Regions from separate parts of the Homo sapiens genome. Here region 2 is linked to region 1. The links come from fine-mapping of genetic effects on gene expression. A gene starts in region 1. The other region holds a variant in brackets. All regions are shown on one strand. Distances are between the middles of the regions.

Region 1 (9,449 bases):
ACTCACAGACTCCCTTGGGGCTATCTCTTCTATTCCCATGACTTCAGCTAGCACCCTTTGCTGACTGCCAAAATACAAATCACCAGCCCAGATCTCCTTCCTAAATGCAATACCCATTCACATAACTGTTTACTGAACATATCCATTTAAATGAAAATCAGAAAAGAAAGCACAGGCTCAGAAGTTGAACTTGAGTTCAAAGCCTTGCTCCATCACAAACTACGATGTATAGCATTGGGCAAGTTTGTTTATTTATTTATTTATTTATTTTTGAGACAGAGTCTCACTCTGTTGCCCAGGCTGGAGTGCAATGGCGAGATCTTGACTCACTGCAACCTCTGCCTCCAGCACCTGCCGCCACGCCCATCTAATTTTTGTATTTTTAGTAGAGACGGGGTTTCGCCATGTTGGCTACGCTGGTCTCAAACTCCTGACCTCAGGTGATCTGCCCGCCTCAGCCTCCCAAAGTGCTGTGATTACAGGCATGAGCCACCGTGCCTGGCCAGCACTGGGGCAAGTTAATTACCTCCCTGAGCCTCAGATAATAATGATGGTCCTGTTTTACAGAGGAGTTGTTGTGAGGATTAAATGAGATAATCCATGTACAGCACTTCCTGCAGCACCTGGCAATGAGTTGATAGTAGCAGATAGTAAAGAGTAGTAGTAATTAAAAGGTCTCAGAAAGTTCAAGTCAACAGATTCAAAAGTGAATTCATGACCAAACCTCAAACCTTCTCTTCATCCTTTGTCCCAAATCTCAATAAATCACACCACCATCTAATCATCCAGAAACCCGAACATTATCCTTGTTTCTTGACCACCACTGCCCTCCCATTCTGCCAGGTTAAGTTTTCCTAACGTAAACCTTGTTGTAACCCACCTATGATCCAATGAATGTTTAAGATGTCTAGGCTTTGCACATATCCATTCATTCAATCCATAGAACAATCCTGCAAGGTGGGTGCTACTATTATTCCTGTTTCGCAGGTGCAGAATTTGAGGCACAGGAAAGTTGAGTAACTCATTCAAGATTATATGAGTGGCAAAGCTGGCATACAAACCCAGGCAGTCTGGCGTCTGTCTCCACACTCACTACCACTATGCCACATTGTTTCTATTGTAATGCATAGCACATTCTATTGTTCGCCTTGTCTCCCCTGATAAACTGTTCTTCAAAGTCAAGGACTCTGATTCATTTGCAGCAGCATCCTCAGTGACTAGAACAGTGCCTGGCAAACAGCACATGCTTAATACAGTTCAGTGAGTTAGGTAGTTCCCTAGAGACAAGACAGAGTAGAGATAAATGGAAGTAGTAATAGAACAGCCAGCAGGTTACATTCAGTTATATCCAAGATCAGAAGTTTTGTTTGTGGATAAAATTTTGTTTTTTTTAATCTGAAGATAATAAACAGAAGACTGAAATCAGAGTAAGTAGAGGTTGAGTTTAAGAAGATCTACTAATATTCACGGATACAGCAGTTATGTAGGGTACATGCTATAATCCTTTTAAGGAAGGGACATTTGACAAACTCTCATAAAGAGAACTCATAGACTTTGGGGGCCGGGCGCGGTGGCTCATGCCTGTAATTCCAGCACTTTGGGAAGCTGAGGCGGGCGGATCACCTGAGGTCGGGAGTTTGAGACCAGCCTGAGCAACATGGAGAAACTCCGTCTCTACTAAAAATACAAAAAATTAGCCAGGCATGGTGGAACATGCCTGTAATCCCAGCTACTCAGGAGGCTGAGGCAGGAGAATCGCTTGAACCTGGGAGGTGGAGATTGTGGTGAGCCGAGATCGCGCTGTTGCACTCCAGCCTGGGCAATGAGAGCGAAACTCCTCCATCTCAAAAAAAAAAAAAAAAAAAAAAGAACTCATAGACTTTGGGGTGCAGTCACGAACAATTTTTTTTAACTGCATTAAAAACAAAAAACAACAACAACAAAAAAACAAAAACAGGCCAGGCGCGGTGGCTCATGCTTGTAATTCCAGCACTTTGGGAGGCTGAGGCTGGCAGATCACATGAGGTCAGGAGCTGGAGACCAGACTGGCCAACATGGTGAAACCCCATGTCTACTAAAAATACAAAAATTAGCCGAGCATGGTGGCACAGGCCTGTAATCCCAGCTGCTCGGGAGGCTGAGGCAGGAGAATTGCCTGAACCTGGACTTAGAGGTTGCAAGGAGCTCAGAGATCGCCCCACCGAACACCAGCCTGGGCAACAGAGTGAGACTCTGTCTCAAAAACAAGCAAACAAAAACAACAAGCCACTACCTACTCCCATGTCACTGAAATTGTGTTGAAGGACTCAAATCCAGTGCCATACACATCAGTTTCAGATAGAGTATCATGCTGGATGTGAGAATTAAAATTTAAATTGGGGGAACAAATGAAAATGTAAGCTCAAGCAGGGTTACAATTTGCCATGGGGGTCAATTTAAGTGTGTAGTCAGTTTATATTCAGCACCACCTGGTGTGCACTGTGTACTGTGTGAATTACTGTATCATACTAAACAAACAGACATTGGTTTTTCTTAAACTGTAGCAAGAAAAATGCTTGCTGTGCAGATCCCAGCAGCCCCAAGAGACGGAAATGAAAACTCCATGCCTAAATTTATCCCTTCCTATTTCATCTCTCCTTGTTCAGGCCTTCCTCCCTTCCTCCCCAGGGCTATTTCCTTAATCTTGACCCCATCTGTAAAGTTCCATCCTGTGCCACATCGGAGGATCTCTTCAGGGCACCTGGGCTCAACAAAACAATATTTCCTTTTTCTCCCACTGGGTATAAAACAGTGCCAACTGAGGCTCTGAGCCTCATTAGATAGATCGGGCAAGAAGTGAAGCAAAATGCTGTTTACATGTACACCACAGCTCTTCCCAGAGCACTTGGAATCAGGACCAGGACACCTCCAAAGCCTCTTTGGTGTTTTTCCTTTCTTTTCTCCTTATATGGCCTTCATGAAGAGTAACTAATTACAATCTGTAAGCAGTAATTACAGTTCATAAACTGTGAGCACAATATAAATATTTTTCCTGAAAGCCAGGTTAGAAGAAATCCTGTCTAAAATGAGATGTAAAACAACAACAATTGAAATAAATATTCTAACTGAATTGTCCCCAAGCACTGTCAAAAAGAAGAAGAGTCTAATCTATCTCTGTAATAATGGGCGTATTATAGTAGGATCGTTTTCAGCCCATTTCCCCATCCTGCTGGGCACGAATTGGCTCAGATAAGGAAAAGGAGCCAACCAAACTGGGGGAAAATAACAAAAAAACCCCAAATCCCAATAAAAAGAACCCACCAATTATTTTGGATGCCTGGTAAACAGCCTGCACCAGAGGATAAGGCTTTTCTGGCCCTCAGCTATGCTTTTTTCTCTTTTCATGTGTCTTGTCCTCCTCCCTTGAAACTGCGGGGTGGGGAAGTCTAAAAATAGTCAATGAATCATGGCATATAATATTGTGCAGTAGTTACATAAACAGCCAGCCCGGGCGCCGGAGCCCCGGGTCGGAACGGAAAATATCTGGGTCAGCGTTGTCACACTGAACAGGGTCCCCCGGAGCCGGCCTTCGGGAGGCGCGGCCCGGGAGGAGGCCTGGGCCTGCGGGCCGGGAGCAGCAGGGGCGGCCCGCGGGAGGGAGCGGAAGTCCCGGGGCGGGCGCGGGCAGCGGCGCGAGCAGGGCGGGCGAGTTCCGCGCTCCCTCCCCATGGCCGGGAGCGGGCCGCGGCGACGGCGGCGGCGCTGACAGGCCCCGGGCGGGGCGGGGCAGGCGGGCCTGGGCGGGGGCCTGGGGCTGTGGGAAGATGAACGCCCTCCTAGAGCAGAAGGAGCAGCAGGAGAGGCTGCGGGAGGCCGCGGCCTTAGGGGACATTCGGGAGGTGCAGAAACTGGTGGAGAGCGGGGTGGATGTGAACTCCCAAAATGAGGTCAACGGCTGGTAAGTGGGGAGCGGGGGAGGCCTAGGGTCAGGGCAGCCGGTCGGAAGGCGTGGGGCAGTCAGTCGCGACCTGGGCCCAGCGCGGGACGCCTGGCTACGGCGAGGCCTGCCACCTCGGGCCTCCGAGATTGTGCTCTCTTGAGGCCAGCCCTGGCCCCCATGCCTCGTGCGGTCGGGAGCGCGTCCTGCCCAAATCCCGGCCCACGTGGTCCACTCGGGGCAGCGCCCACTGGGACTCTGGTGCCCTACCCCCTTCCCCCGCGCTCCCGGCTCACTTGGTCAGAGCGGTGCTGGAGGCAGTGATTCTCAGCGACTATGCGTTGGAGCTCACCCCAATTCGAGTGTTGAGTTAATTTGCCGTAGGTGCTTCTGGAGAACGCATCTTGCAGAGCTAAAAGCATAAGCAACTGAGCAAATATGAATTTTATAAACTAGCACGATTTCCTTAGCCAAGACCAGGAAAAAAAAACACATTTGCATCACCATTCTGCTTCTCTGTTGTTTCACTGCAACCGATTTGCTGCTGCTGCCTGTAGTTGCCTGTTTGAGGGAAAACTCATTTGTTTATCCTATCGATTATTTTCTTTCTTTTTTTTTTTTTTTTTTTTTTTTTTTTTGAGACAGGGTCTTGCCCTGTCGCCCAGGGTGGAGTGCAGTGGCATAGTCTCGGCTCACTGCAACTTCTACCTCCCCGGCTCAGGTGATCCTCCTGCCACAGCCTCCCAAATAGCTGGGAATACAGGCACGCGCCCCCACACCCGGCTAATTTTTTTTTTTTTTTTTTTTGGTATTTTTGGTAGAGATGGGGCCAGGTTGGTCTCAAACTCCTGGCCTCAAGTGATCCACCCGCCTCAGCCTCCAAAAGTGCTGGGATTACAGATGTGAGCCTACCGTTCCTGGCCAGTTTTCTTATTACAATTTCAAATACAGAATGTCACCCAAGACTTTAGATGTCTGCCTGCAGATTGAATTCTTCCCAATTAAATAAGGAGTCTCATCTTAAGATGTTGCTGGTGGTCAAAACAGAAAGTTACTGAATGTGGCATTATTCCGCTCTCTGCATTTAAAATTTAAAATTTTGATTCAGGTAATGCTTAGCCAGACTATTTTGCTAGCTTAGAGTTAAAGTGAGTAGCACTTTGGGAGGCTGAGGTGGGCGGATCACGAGGTCAGGAGATCAAGACCATCCTGGCCAACATGATGAAACCCCGTCTCTACTAAAAATACAAAAATTAGCTGGGCGTGGTGGTGCATGCCTGTAGTCTCAGCTACTTGGGAGGCTGAGGCAGGAGAATCACTTGAACCTGGGAGGCGGAGGTTGCAGTAAGCCAAGATTGCACCACTGCACTCCAGCCTGGGCGACAGAGCAAGACTCTACCTCAAAAAAAAAAAAAAGTGAGTTTACATTTTGTTTTTTTAAGTGGAATCATCCATTTTGGAACTGAAAGGGACAATGGAGAGAGGCTCAACCACAGAGAATAACTTGCCCTAGGCCACATAACTATTAATATGATAGCACCAGAACCATGGTTTCCAGACTGCCTCAAAAGTCTACCTACCTGGACCTGGCGCGGTGGCTGACGCCTGTAATCTCAGCACTTTGGGAGGCCAAGGTGGGCAGATCACGATGTCAGGAGTTCGAGACCATTCTGGCCAACATGGTGAAACCCTGTCTCTACTAAAGATACAAAAATTAGCCAGGGGTAGCGGTGTGTGCCTGTCATCCCAGCTACTTGGGATGCTGCAGCAGGAGAATCACTTGAACCAGGGAGTTGGAGGTTGAAATGAGCCAAGATCACACCACTGCACTCCAGGCTGGTGGCAGAGCGAGACTCTGTCTCAAAAAAAAAAAAAAAAAAAGTCTATCTTCCTGGTAGGACCTGGTGGCTCACGCCTGTAATCCCAGCACTTTGGGAGGCCAAGGCAGGAGGATCACTGGAGTCCAGAAGTTTGAGACCAGCCTGGGCAACATAGTGAGATCCCAGTCTCAAAAAAAAATTTTTTTCTACCTAATTTCCCTAAAGAAAACAGCCTGGACAGCTGTCCAGAAGGCCAGGAAACAGTGGATACTACCTTTTTGTTCTGTTTTTTTTTTTTTTTACAGGTCTTTGCAAACTTGCTGTTGTGTATGTAACCTTTTCTCAGCATTCCTCTGGTTCAAAGCTGTGAATTACCATTTTGGCACTGGGAGGCGGTGTTGTGTAGAAGGAGCCTGGTCTTTCCTGCAGGTTCTCCTCCATTCCTGCCTAGCTATGGGACTTTGCCTGAGATGCTTCATTTTCTACTTGTTCCAGAAGAGTATTGTGAGCCCTTAATGAGATGAAGCATAAATAGCTAACATTTATTGAACTTGCTTTGCAGCACAGATAGGATAGGGTTCTTTTTTTTTTTTTTTTTTTTGAGACAGAGTCTCGCACTCTCGCCCAGGCTGGAGTGCAGTGGTGCCAGGTGCCATCTTGGCTCACTTCAAGCTCTGCCTCCTGGGTTCACGCCATTCTCCTGCCTCAGCCTCCCGAGTAGCTGGGACTACAGGTGCCCGCCACCACGCCCGGCTAATTTTTTGTATTTTTAGTAGAGATGGGGTTTCACCGTGTTAGCCAGGATGGTCTCGATCTCCTGACCTTGTGATCCGCCTGACTCTGCCTCCCAAAGTTCTGGGATTACAGGCGTGAGCCACCGTGCCCGGCCAGCTCAGATAGGGTTCTAAGTGTTTTACATGTGTTAGCTTGTTCACAACTACCTGGGGACATAGTTACTGTTCTCTCCATTTACAGATGAAGAAACTGAGGCCCAGAAACCGTAAGTTGTTTCCTCACTTTTCACAGTGCCCCTTCCCAAGGTCATAGGATTGACAGTAACTAGTGGAGCCAGAAAACAAACCTGGTATCTGATGCCAGACCTACCCTCCTAAACACAATGTCTGCCCCATAGGAGGTGTTTAGTGAAGTGATTCTGAGGTAGCCTGAAGAGGCTTCTTATAGGTTTTTTTTTTTTTTTTTTTTTTTGAGATGGAGTTTCACTCTTGTCACCCAGGCTGGAGTGCAATGCGTGATCTCAGCTCACTGCATCCTCCACCTCCTGGGTTCAAGCGATTCTCCTGCCTCATCCTCCCAAGTAACTAGGATTACAGGTGTGTGCCACCACGCCTGGCTAGTTTTTTGTATTTTTAGTAGAAATGGGGTTTCACCATGTTAGCCAAGCTGGTCTCGAACTCCTGACCTCAGGTGATCTGCCCGCCTCGGCCTCCCAAAGTGCTGGGATTATAGGCGTGAGCCACCGCGCCCGGCCTCTTGTAGATTTAATTGGAGGAACTGTCTAATAGGCCCCTCAAACTCAACATGTCCAAGATTGAATTCCAAGTCTCCCCTCATCCCTCTACCACCTCAAGCCTGCTCCTCTGAGTCCTCAGCCTCTCAGGAGTGCTCAGGCCAGAACCCTTGGCACCCTGCTTGCCTCCTGCTTGCCTCCTGTCTTTCATAGCCGACATCCAGTCAGCCAATTCTATGAGCTCCACCTTCAGATACAGTCAGAATCTGACTACTTCTCACTAACCCTACCACTACACCTCTGATACAAAGCCACCATTGTTTCTCTTGCTTGGATTATTACAATAGCCTCCTACTAGTGTCCTTGCTCCTAAGCTTATATCATACAGTCTTCTTAATTAACACAGTGGTCAGAGGGATCCTGACTTAAAACATAAGTCAGATCATTTCACTCTGCTCAAAAATGGCTCCTATCTCACTCAGTAAAAGCCTACAGGGTCCTACAATTTCTACTTCCTGTCCCCACATCTTCCCTCCTTACCTCTGTGCTAATCTCATGGGATTTGCCCTTCTGCTTACCTTTTTCCCCTGGCCTCCTTGCTTTCTCTGGAATACCAGACAGTCCTGATTCAAGATCTTTGCGTTTTGTCTTCCCACTCTCTTAAATGCTTTCCCTCCAGATATCACATGGTTTGCTTCCTCACCACCTTCAGATTTTAGTTTAGATGTCACCTTCTTGGCAAGGCTTTTCCTGGGCCCTCAATTTAAAGTTGCACAATGCCCCTTTCCAACCTCTGTCATTCCCTAATGCCTTTCCCTGCTTTACTATTGCTGTCATACTTCATCACCACCTAGCGTACTGCGTGCTTTGCTTATTTATTTGCTGATGTCTGTTTCCTCTTCTGTAAAATGGGGGGAATGTTGACAGTAGTATTACCTCATGGGTTTAGAGGATTAAATAAGTTAATACATGTAATGCCTTTAGAACAATGTCCAACACGTAAAGCATTATACCTGTATTAGCCATTGTTGTTGTTTTCTTATTATGAAGCAATATGCTAGATAATGGAATATAAGGTTACCCTCAAAAAAACGTACTCTCTTGCATTTGCAAAGCAGAATGGTGACTGCTTTCAAGTCTTAGTTGCTCAGTAATCACAATTTCAGCACCAATGAGTGATGCCCTGTTGATGAATGACACCCAGTGCCTCAGGTCTGAAATAGTTTCTGACACTAATAAGATATTTTGACTGCAAATGTAAAGCTTAAGGAGTTGAAGTTCAAAGATAGAGTAATCTATCAATTAGATTGATCACTAATCATTCCCCCACATCAGTTGTAATTCAAGTGTCATGCATAACCCTTGGTTCATGAAGAACTTGAAAATATTACCTGGCTGCAGGGGCTCTGAGTTATGGCTGCCCAGAGCCGCACAGCTCTGGACGGTAAATGATGATCACTAAGGCACAGGGCTGTGGGGGCCACGCTATGTTGACTTAACCCTGCTTTACATGGGTGGTAGTTTAGCAAGTTGGTTTGTCCCAGAGTCTCTCAGACCCACTGGTAGTAAATTACCTCCTTTACTCTCAAGCTTGCCACGAACAAGTGATCTACTACTAGCAAGTGAGCATTTTATTTCCAAAAGGGAGCATATTTTTCTCATCATGCTTCATTCATTTTTGAGGGCTCACTTATCATTATAATTGTTCACTTTTTAAGCCTGTGCCACAGACATCCACACACAAACACACTCAAGGTTCCAGTTTGCCCAGAATCAAGGGTAGATTGGATCCTTCTACTTCAAGCAAGGTCCACTTTATCCTTAGTTTACTCATTTGGTACTTTTTTTTTTTTTGAGATGGAGTCTTGCTGTGTTGCCCAGGCTGAAGTGCAGTGGCACAATCTTGGCTCGCTGCAACCTCCACCTCCTGGGTTCAAGCAATTCTCCTGCCTCAGCCTCCCCAGTAGCTGGGATTACAGACATGCACCATCACACTAATTTTTGTATTTTTAGTAGAGATGGGGTTTCACCCTATTGGGCAGGCTGGTCTCAAACTCCCGACCTAAAGTGATCCACCTGCCTTGGCCTCCCTAAGTGCTGGGATTACAGGTGTGAGCCACCGTGCCTGGCCCATTCAGTAAATATTAATTAATACATGCCAAGCAAACACTTCCTTGCCTTCAGGGAGCTTGATCAAGACTCTTCTCTCCCAAACTTAACGAGACTCTTATTTTTCCCAAATTAG
Region 2 (9,546 bases), 35 kb after region 1:
GGATGACCACAGTGAAGAGCGGCGTGCTGGCCATGATGACCACAAGAGTGGAGATGGCGTTGAAGAAGGAATTGAGCAGCATGAGGATGACAGGGGCCAGAACCTCATCAACGACATAGATGTCCTTGGAGAAGCAGTTCAGGATGCGGCCTGATGGTGTGGTGTCAAAGAAGGACTGTGGCGAGCGTATCTTGTTGTGCAGCAGTGCCTGGTGCAACACACGGGCAGCCTGGATGCCACCCGCTGCCATGGCCATGGCTGCCAGCATCACCAAGAACCCTGTTGGAGAAGGCAGAGGGCGCTGGCTCACCTGGACTAGTGAGCGGGCACAAAGGGGCAGAATCAGAGACACGGGTTGACCAGAGTGGGTTAGGGAGGCTTGGATGCAAGGGCACGGTTTGGGGGGCCTGGCAGCCCAGAGAAGAAGGGATATTGGAGCCCCTTCTGGACACCCCCACAAGCTCACCTTGCAGAATTCCTAAAGCAGCATAGACGCCCAGCCTCAGGGAAGTGTTGTTCTGTCTACTGTCTGCCATGGCATCATTTGTCCAGGCACTGAGCCACACATTGGCTCCAATGGCAGCCGCACTTTGACCCACATACAGGAGACAGATGGCCAGCGTGGTACAGAGCCCCACGGCCTTGGCATAATCCCAGAACACACTGAGCTCCACCTGTAGGGAGCAGCCATGGCAGTCAGGGACAGGGGACTCCATAAACCCTGGGGCTGCTGGGGCCTGCCTGTCCATCCCCTCCAGCCCCTCTTGCCCCACCGACTCACAGTGCCAATGGCTGCTTTCTCCTCCTGGGTCAGTGCCCCATCTGCCTTCGCCTCTGTCACCTGCACCTTCTCTGATGGACCCAGGTGCCTCCGGGGTACAGGCCGACCCTGTCCCTCCCCATCTGAGGACAGGGCACTCAGCTGTCTGTGGAGGCAGCTGGTCAGGCCCAGGGAGGGGGCCTCAAGCACCCCCCAGGACAGAGGCTGGGAGTGTCAGGGAGAAACCTGCACCCCATCTGGCAGGGCCTGGGGAGGCCTGATACAGCCTCCGGGAGGGCTGGGAGCTCTCAGGAACTCACCTCATAAACTGCTTCTGGACCACATAGGTGACTGGATCATTGTCTGTCAGATCCGTGTGGTTGCTGAGTGTGTCTTCAATCAGCAGTGCCTCCTTATCCTCTGCACCTTCCAACGCTGCAGTAGGGTGGGAGGAAGGAGATAGGGTTCAGCTAGTTCTCCCTGCAAGCCCCTGGTATCTCCCATTCCCCACTCTAATGAAAGGGGTTCAATGGACAAGCATGAAAATAAAATGAGGGGGATTGAAAGGGCAACAAGAAAGACTTGGGTTAAGCAACAAGAAAAACTCTCTTCACAAATTATGGAGAAACGGACTCAAATACAAGGGTTAGGAACTTGGGCTCTGGAGTTAGACTGGCTGAGCTTAAAACTCACGTCCTTGGTCGGGCATGGTGGCTCACGCCTGTAATCCCAGCACTTTGGGAGGCTGAGGCAGGCAGCTCACGAGGTCAGGAGATCGAGACCAGCCTGGCCAACATGGTGAAACCCCGTCTCTACTAAAAATACAAAAATTAGCCGGGCGTGGTGGCGGGCACCTATAATCCTGGCTACTCGGGAGGCTGAGGCAGGAGAATCGCTTGAACCCAGGAGGCAAAGGTTGCAGTGAGCCAAGATCGCACCGTTGCACTCCAGCCTGGGCAACAGAGTGAGAAACTGTCCCCAAAAAAAAAAAAAAAAAATCTGCATGACTGTAGGCTTAAAAGAAAATGTGTCCAGTGTGTGAGCGAGGGGCACAGCACTTGGTAAATGCTCAAGGCACGTTGGCTGTATGTATAGCCATAGGCAAGAAAGCCCAGGAAAAGGTCTGTGAGCCAATCCAGAATTGGGGGCTGGGGAGCTGGGTCTGGGCAACAAGGAGCCAGGGGCATGTTGTGAGCCCAGAGACGTCAACAAGCTCCATGAGGACTATAATTTTTTTGTTTGCTCACTGCTATAGCTTAGTGTCTGGAACAGTGCCTGTATATAGTGATTGTCCAATAAATTTTGGTTGATAAATAAGCGGCTTTGCTAAGCACTTGCATACTTGCCAAACTATTTATCCATGAAGCAGCCTTGCCACACAAGCTGGGCCTGGGCCCTCCTATGCTTTCAACAGATGGAAAACAGGCTCTGAGATCGGGCAAGGTGGCTCACACCTGTAATCCCAGCACTTTGGGAGGCCGAGGCAGGCAGATCACGAGGTCAAGAGATCGAGACCATCCTGGCCAACATGGTGAAACCATGTCTGTACTAAAAATACAAAAATTAGCCAGGCGTGGTGGCGCATGCCTGTAGTCCCAGCTACTCGGGAGCCTGAGGCAGGAGAATCACTTGAACCTGGGAGGCAGAGGTTGCAGTGAGCTGAGATTGTACCACTGCACTCCAGCCCGGCGACAGAGCCAGACTCTGCCTCAAAAGAAAAAAAAGAAAGAAAGAAAGAAAGAAAGAAAGAAAGAAAGAAAGAGAGAGAGAGAGAGAGAGAGAGAGAGAGAGAGAGAGAGAGAGAGAGAGAGAGAGAGAAAGAAAGAAAGAAAGAAAGAAAGAAAGAAAGAAAGAAAGAAAGAAAGAAAGAAAGAAAGAAAGAAAGAAAGAAAGAAAACAGGCTCTGAGACCGGGGCGGAGGATCTGAGTTCCCACAGTTAGGGTAGAGTAGGATGGAGGAGGCAGTGGGACCCGACTATGTCCAGTTTACTTTACCTCTGGTGACTGTCACACAGATGGCCCAAGTTTCCCAGAACCTGCCTGGCACAACACTAGGCCAGTCTAGACACACTCAGAGACCCCAGACAGGGGGAATGCTGGGAAGGCATGGGAATCAGAGGGCCCAGGATGGCAGATACCGGTCCAGCTGTCCTCCAGGTGCCCTTGGTCCTCATCGGGGGCATAGTTGCAGAGAAAGTTGGCAAAGGAGCCGTTGCGCTGCAGCAGGGCTGGGTACGGGCCCATCTCAGACACCTGTCCATCAGCTAGCACAATGATGAAGTCTGTCTGGGGCAGGAAGCTAATGCCGTGCGTCACCAGCACTCGCGTCTGGGGAGAAGGCAGCAGGCTCTCACCCCTACCACCCTCCAGCACACCCCTGGCACAGGCACGGAGCCACAGAGTGAGTGTGAAGTGTGCCCATGTGCCAGGGAGCTTGGACAGGCACATGGGTGACTCACCCTGTGCTCGCCACAGCCTGCTCAGAACCTCGCAGGTGGGGGAGTTGTCCCCACAGGTTTCTCCTGATGCCCAACCCACATGCCCACTTCTTGCGCCCCCCACACCTCCAAGTCTCATCCAAACCCCTCAGCCTCTCACCAGCTCTCTCTTCGGGCCTCAGATCTCACCTTAGCCCCCTTAGCCTCTGGCAGGCCTCACCTTGCCTGCCAGCACGCCTTCTGGCCCGATGACGTGGTCAAAGATGTGCTTGGCCACATGAGAGTCCACCGCGGACAGTGGGTCATCCAGCAAGAAAATATCGGCATCACTGTAAACAGCTCGAGCCAGACTGACCCGCTGCCGCTGGCCCCCAGACAGGTTAATGCCCTGGAGGGAGGCGGGGGGTGGGAAAAATGGGGTCAGACAGGCACAGGGAGACAACGGCCTGTCCACTGTTATTTGGGATGGCAGATTTTTTTTTTTTTTTCCTGAGATGGGGTCTCACTCACCCAGGCTGGAGTGCAGTGGTGCGATCTTGGCTCACTGCAACCTCTGCCTCTCGCGTTTGAGCAATTCTCATGCCTCAGCCTCCCGAGTAGCTAGGATTGATTGCAGGACCACCATGCCTGGCTACTGACTAAAATGTTTTATTTTTTATAGAGACAGAATCTCCATATGTTGCCCAGCCTGGTCTCCAACTCCTGAGCTCAAGCAATTGGCCCACGTCAGCCTCCCAAAGTAAAGTGCTGGGATTACAGGTGTGAGCCACTGTGCCTGACCAGAACAGCAGTCTTCTGAATCTATATTTCACATGGGGCCTAGTCTGTCCCTGCAATGCTGTGAGGGACAGAGGTAAAGGGTAAGTCCTCCTGGGGCAGGTGAGGCCATTCTGCTCCATTGGTCACCACCCTGCCCAGCTTGGTGTCCTGCCCAACCCATCTACGGATAAATGGGCACACAAATGTGTATATACCTATAATGAAATATCATTCAGCCTTACAAGGAGGGAAATTCTGACACATGCTACAACATGGATATGCCTTGAGGACATTATGCTAAGTGAAATAAGCCCGTCACGAAAAGACAAATGCTGGATGATTCCACTTACGTGAGGTACCTAGGTGATATGGTTGAAATATTTGTTCCTTCCAAAGTGCATGTTGAAACTTACCCCCCAGTGTGGCAGGATTGAGGGG[T/A]GGCATTTACCAGGTGATTAGGTCATGAAAACAGAGCCCTCATGAATGGTTGATCCATTTATGGATTAATAGGTTGATGCGTGAATGGGTTACTGGGGGAGTGGGACCGGTGGCTTTATAAGAAAGAAAGAGAAACCTGAGGTCGCGCGTGGTGGCTCATGCCTGTAATCCCAGCAATTTGGGAGGTCGAGGTGGGTGGATCATTTGAAGTCAGGAGTTCAAGACCAGCATGGCCAATATGGTGAAACCCATCTCTACTAAAAATACAAAAATTAGTCGGGCTGTAGTTGCGTGCGCCTGTAATCCCAGCTATTCGGGAGGCTGAGGAAGGAGAATCGTTTGAACCTGGGAGGCGGAGGTTGCAGTGAGCCAAGATCACGCCGCTGTACTCCAATCTACAGTCTGGGCAACAGAGTGAAGCCTTGTCTCAAAAAAAAAAAAAAAAAAAAAAAAAAAAAAGGAAGGAAGGAAGAGAGACCTGAGCTAGCATGCTCGGTCCCCTTGCCATGGGATGCCCTGTATGGCCTTGGGACTCTGCAGACTCCCCGCCAACAAGGAGGCCCTCTCCAGATGCAGCCCCTGGACCGTGGACTCTTCAGCCTCCGTAACTGTACAAAATACATTTCTTTTCTTTATAAATTACCTAGTTTCAGGCATTCTCTTATAAGCAATAGAAAATGGACTAAGATACTAAGTAGTCAAATTCCTAGGAACAGAAAATAGAATGGTGGTTACTGGGGCCTAGGGGCAGTGGGGAATGAGGAGTTGCTTAATAGGCACAATTTTAGTTTTGCAAGATGAAAAGGTTCTGGAGATCGGTTGCACAGCAATGTAAATGTACTTAACATTGCTGAACTGTACACTAAGAAATGATTAAGTTTTTTTTTCTTTTTTTTTTTTTTAAGACAGAGTCTTGCTCTGTCGCCCAGGCTGGAATGCAGTGATACAATCAATCTCAGTTCATTGCAACCTCCGCCTCCTGGGCTTACGCAATGCTCCTGCCTCAGCCTCCTGAGTAGCTGGGACTACAGGCACACGCCATCACACTCGGCTAATTTGTTTGTATTTCTAGTAGAGATGGGGTTTTATCATGTTAGCAAGGCTGGCCTTGAACTCCTTACCTCAAATGATACACCTGCCTCAGCCTCCCAGAGTGCTGGGAGCCACCATGCCGGGCAAGATGATATATTTTATGTTATGTGTGGTTTTTACCACAGTTAAAAATTGTTAAAAAGCAAAGCCCCAAATTTTCCCCAGTGTTCCATGTTTTTTAGAGTAAAGGCCAAAATCTTAACCAAGGTAATCAGGGTTCTGCCTCTCTCTATCTTTTCCCTCCATTTCCCAACTCCTAGTCATGCCAGAGAACTCCAAGACCCCATACAGGGTTCCATGGCCCCAGACAGAGCTTTCTGGCTCCAGACAAGGCTCACTCGGTCTCTTTGTTGAGTTCTCTGATTCTCAGTGAGGATTTCCCAAGCTACCTTAACCATTCAACTCTGCAGGCATTCCTGTATTCCTTCCCCGCTTTATTTTTTCCACTGAGCATTTATCTAACATATTATATATTGTACTTATTTATCTTACTTATTATCTCTTCCTGCCACTAGAATGTGAGCTATATGAAGGTAGAGATATTAGCCCGGCATTTTAGTATTCACTACTGTATACTATTTCCCAGAATAGAGTGGGTGCTTAATAAATATATGGTAAATGAATGAACAGATACATGATGAGCTCCTCCTCCTCAGTTGTTAAAACTGAGGTCAAAAGTGATGCTTAAGGCTAGGCACGGTGCTCATGCCTGTAATCCCAGCACTTTGAGAGGCTGAGGCGGGGGGATCACTTGAAGCCAGGAGTTCAAGACCAGATGGGCCAACATGGCAAAACCCCGTCTGTACTAAAAACACAAAAATTAGCCAAGTGTGGTGGTGCGCACCCGTAATCCCAGCTACTCGGGTGGCTGAGACACGAGAATTGCTTGAACCCGGGAGGTGGAGGTTGCAGTGAGCCATGATCTGCGCCACTGCACTCCAGCCTGGGTGACAGAGCAAGGCTCTGTCTAAAAAAAAAAAGTGATGCTCAGCCAGGTGCAGCAGCTCATGCCTGTAATCCCAGTACTCTGGGAGGCCAGGGTGGGAGGATCTCCTGAGCCAGCCTGGGCGACATGGCAAGACGCTGTCTCTAAAAAAAATTAAAAATTTAGCTGGGTATGGTGGCATGTGCCTGTGGTCCCAGATACTCAGGAGGCTGAGGCGAGAGGATCACTTGAGCCCAGGAGTTCCAAGCTGCAGCGTCCCATGATGTCACCATGGCACTCCATCCTGGGCAACAGAGTGAGGCCTTATCTCAGAAAGAAAGAAAAAAAAAAAGTGATGCTCTTCCTTATGTAGGCTCCCTGCTGTGCCCTCCCTGTACCCTGCACAGGCCTTCAGCCTGGCTCCTAGAATATTCAATAGTTCCTACTTGTTCACTAAACAGATCTGCTAATAGATCTGTTTCCCCAGTGCCTGGCACAGAGTTGGGCATAACGTTACACCAATGTGTGAATGAAGGGATGAATATATGGACCTGGGCTGGGTTGAGGTGGGCAGCTCTATGCCCTAGCCTCTTAGGGATGGAAGAGGACTCTGTACCTTCTCTCCAATCTCTGTCTGATCCCCACCAGGCAGCATCTCCAGGTCAGCTAGCAAGGCACAGGCCTCCAGAGTCTGCTGGTAGCGCTTGGGGTTCAGGGCTTTGCCGAAAAGCACGTTTTCCTGAAGAGTGCAGTTCTGGATCCATGCCTGCTGGGGCACATAGGCCACGGAGCCCTGGCCACAGGAGAAATTTACCTCGGGGCTTGCCCAAGGCCTGGCTGAGCCCCACACCCTGCCCAGGAGCCCCTGCCTCTCTCACCTTCATGTGCACTTTGCCTTCTAGCTTCTCCATCTCTCCCAGCAGGGCAGACACCAGGGAGGACTTCCCACAGCCCACAGGCCCCACCACGGCCACCAGTGCCCCTTTCGGGACCTGGATGTCTAGGCTGGGGGCAAGGACCCCAGGAGTCCAGTTAGAGGCAGGGATCAGGGTTTTGGTCTCCAACCCTCCACCTGCAGAACCAAGCCCTCCGCCCTTCCAGACACCCCCCTGGCAGGCTGAAGCTCTTCCTGCATTCTTGGTCAAAGGCTTTGCAGGGTGCTGCTATTGATCTGAACTTCCAGCCCACCGTGGGCAGCTGGGAAGGGAGTGGGAGAAGCTGGTACCTGTGCAGAGTGGGGGGCAGGTCCTGGGCCCAGGTGAAGGTGCCACTGTGTATGGTGATGGCATAGCCTGAGAGGACCAAGGTGGGCAGGGTCAGGGAGGGAGCTCAAGGGATGGGGTAGCCTGCAGGGAGGCTGGGGGGCAGGGGAAAGGAGGACAGGGGAGGAGCCTGGGCCATGGGGAGGGGATCCTTGGGAAAAGGGAGGAAGAAAGGGATGTGGGGAGCCCTGTGGAGGAGGGCGGAGGAGAGCAGAGAACCCGGAAGAGGGAGGAGGTCAGAGTCGAAGCAGATGTGAACAGAGGAAGAAGAAAAGGGGTCAGGAGAGAACAAAGGAAAAGCTTGAAACAGAGGTTTTTCTGGAGCAAGGACTGGGGCAGGCAGCCCAGGTAGGGGCTCTCTAGACCTGGGGAGATGGTCTTTCTTTCCACACTCTGGGGGTCAAGTTCCTCTTGGCTCAGGAATTGCTGGATCCGTTTCAGAGACACACTGGCCTACGGGAGGATGTGAGTCAGCCCTAGAGACTGTACTTTCCCAACCCCCAACCCCTACCCTCGCCCCATCCCCAGCATCCTGGGCTAGGCAGGACCCCCTGAGGGCCCAGACACTAGCACTGGGGTCCCTCCCACGACTGAGTCTTCCATGGCTCCCACTGCCCAAAGAGAAAGTCCAGGTTGGTAAGAGGAGGCTATCTACAGAACTCAGGTTTCCAGACACCCGACCTGACCACCTGTGACTCCAAATGACCCCTGACCTTAATGACCTCATTCAACCTTGAATAGCTCTTCATAATGCTAGCAACCTTCCCTGAATCCAATAACTCCCCCTGATTATCCCTTGCCCTAAGTGACCCTTCCCTGACCCCAACAACCTGTTCCAACTCCAGTAGAGCCCCCAGCCCTACCCAGGGTTACCTGAGTCAGGTTGCTGATTAACTGGGGCAGCATGTTGAGGGGAAGTCTTAAGATATTAAACAAGGACACAGACACAAAGGCCTTCTCGGCGTCCAGCACATTGTTTGGGTCCACGTACACGTACACCCAGAGGGTGATCAGGGTCACCTGAGCAGCGTGGAGGTGGTGTCAGGGTAGAGTCCAATGAGCCCTGGCCATGCCTGGGCACCCAGAGCCCTGGAGGCAGGGACCCAGCCCTGTGCCAAGCCTCACCAGGAAGGGGCTGCACATCCAGGTGAAGGTGGTTGTGGTGTGGAGGTAGGCCGCCGTGCGCAGCAGCTGGAGCTCACCCTGCCTGATGCCCTCCACCTGCTTCAGGAAGCTGGGCTCCCAGGCGTACAGCTTCAGCACCTTGATGCCGTTCAGGATCTCACTCATCAGCTTGATGCGCGAGTCCTTCAATTTCATTTGCTTTACCTGTGCAGGCAGAAAGAGTGTCAGTGGCACACCTGCTCCCTCCCCTGACCTCCTGCTCACAGGGTCCTACCTTCCATCCATTCTCATCCATTGCAGCCATTCCACGCTGCCCACCATTCCTTCTCACAACTCCTTGCTGGGCCTGTGCTGTGCCTTGGCCTGGAATGCACAGCCCCTGCCTCCCTGTGTCCTCTGCCTGACAAGATCCATCTCCACCCTCAGTGCCACTGCACCGGCCTCCCCAGGCAGCATCCTCTGTCCCCTGCCCTGGGTTTCTTCTCCTACTACTTCTTTTTCTTCTTCTTATTATTATTGCTAGTATTATTTATTTTAGAGATGGTGCCTCACTGTGTTGCCCAGGCTGGACTGCAGTGGTACAATCATAGCTCACTGCAGCCTCAAACTCCTGGGCTCCTTTGATCCTCCTGTCTCAGCCTCCTGACTAGCTGGAACTACAGGCATGAACAACCATGCCCAGCTAATTTTTAAATTTTTTTGTAGGGACGAGGTCTCACTCTGTTGCCCAGGCTGATTTCAAACTCC

Direction of the effects. Alleles are on the strand shown, and positions count from the first base shown. SD is a standard deviation of normalised expression in the study named.
For the expression in lymphoblastoid cells after a statin of the gene that starts at base 3,544 in region 1, allele A in region 2 goes with a higher level than allele T (moderate effect, 0.49 SD a copy in CAP).

The links. PIP is the estimated chance that this variant, and not a neighbour inherited with it, causes the effect.
Region 2: its variant is fine-mapped to the expression of ANKRD40 in lymphoblastoid cells after a statin (CAP, PIP 0.93).

The regions. Positions count from the first base shown.
Region 1 is chr17:50,702,009-50,711,457 of GRCh38, reverse strand. It overlaps ANKRD40 (ankyrin repeat domain 40), which reads left to right and starts at 3,544. Exons shown (of 5, transcript NM_052855.4): 1 at 3,544-3,937. The coding sequence starts at 3,804. RefSeq lists silencers at 3,599-3,808, 3,939-4,208.
Region 2 is chr17:50,667,011-50,676,556 of GRCh38, reverse strand. It overlaps ABCC3 (ATP binding cassette subfamily C member 3), which reads right to left. Exons shown (of 31, transcript NM_003786.4): 12 at 8,800-9,003; 13 at 8,548-8,694; 14 at 8,040-8,127; 15 at 7,638-7,704; 16 at 7,291-7,417; 17 at 7,029-7,205; 18 at 3,419-3,586; 19 at 2,899-3,088; 20 at 1,081-1,195; 21 at 782-926; 22 at 467-674; 23 at 1-279. Among named protein-coding and RNA genes, the nearest start is that of ANKRD40, 36 kb to the left of the region's middle. The variant T/A (reference allele first, on the strand shown) is at 4,396.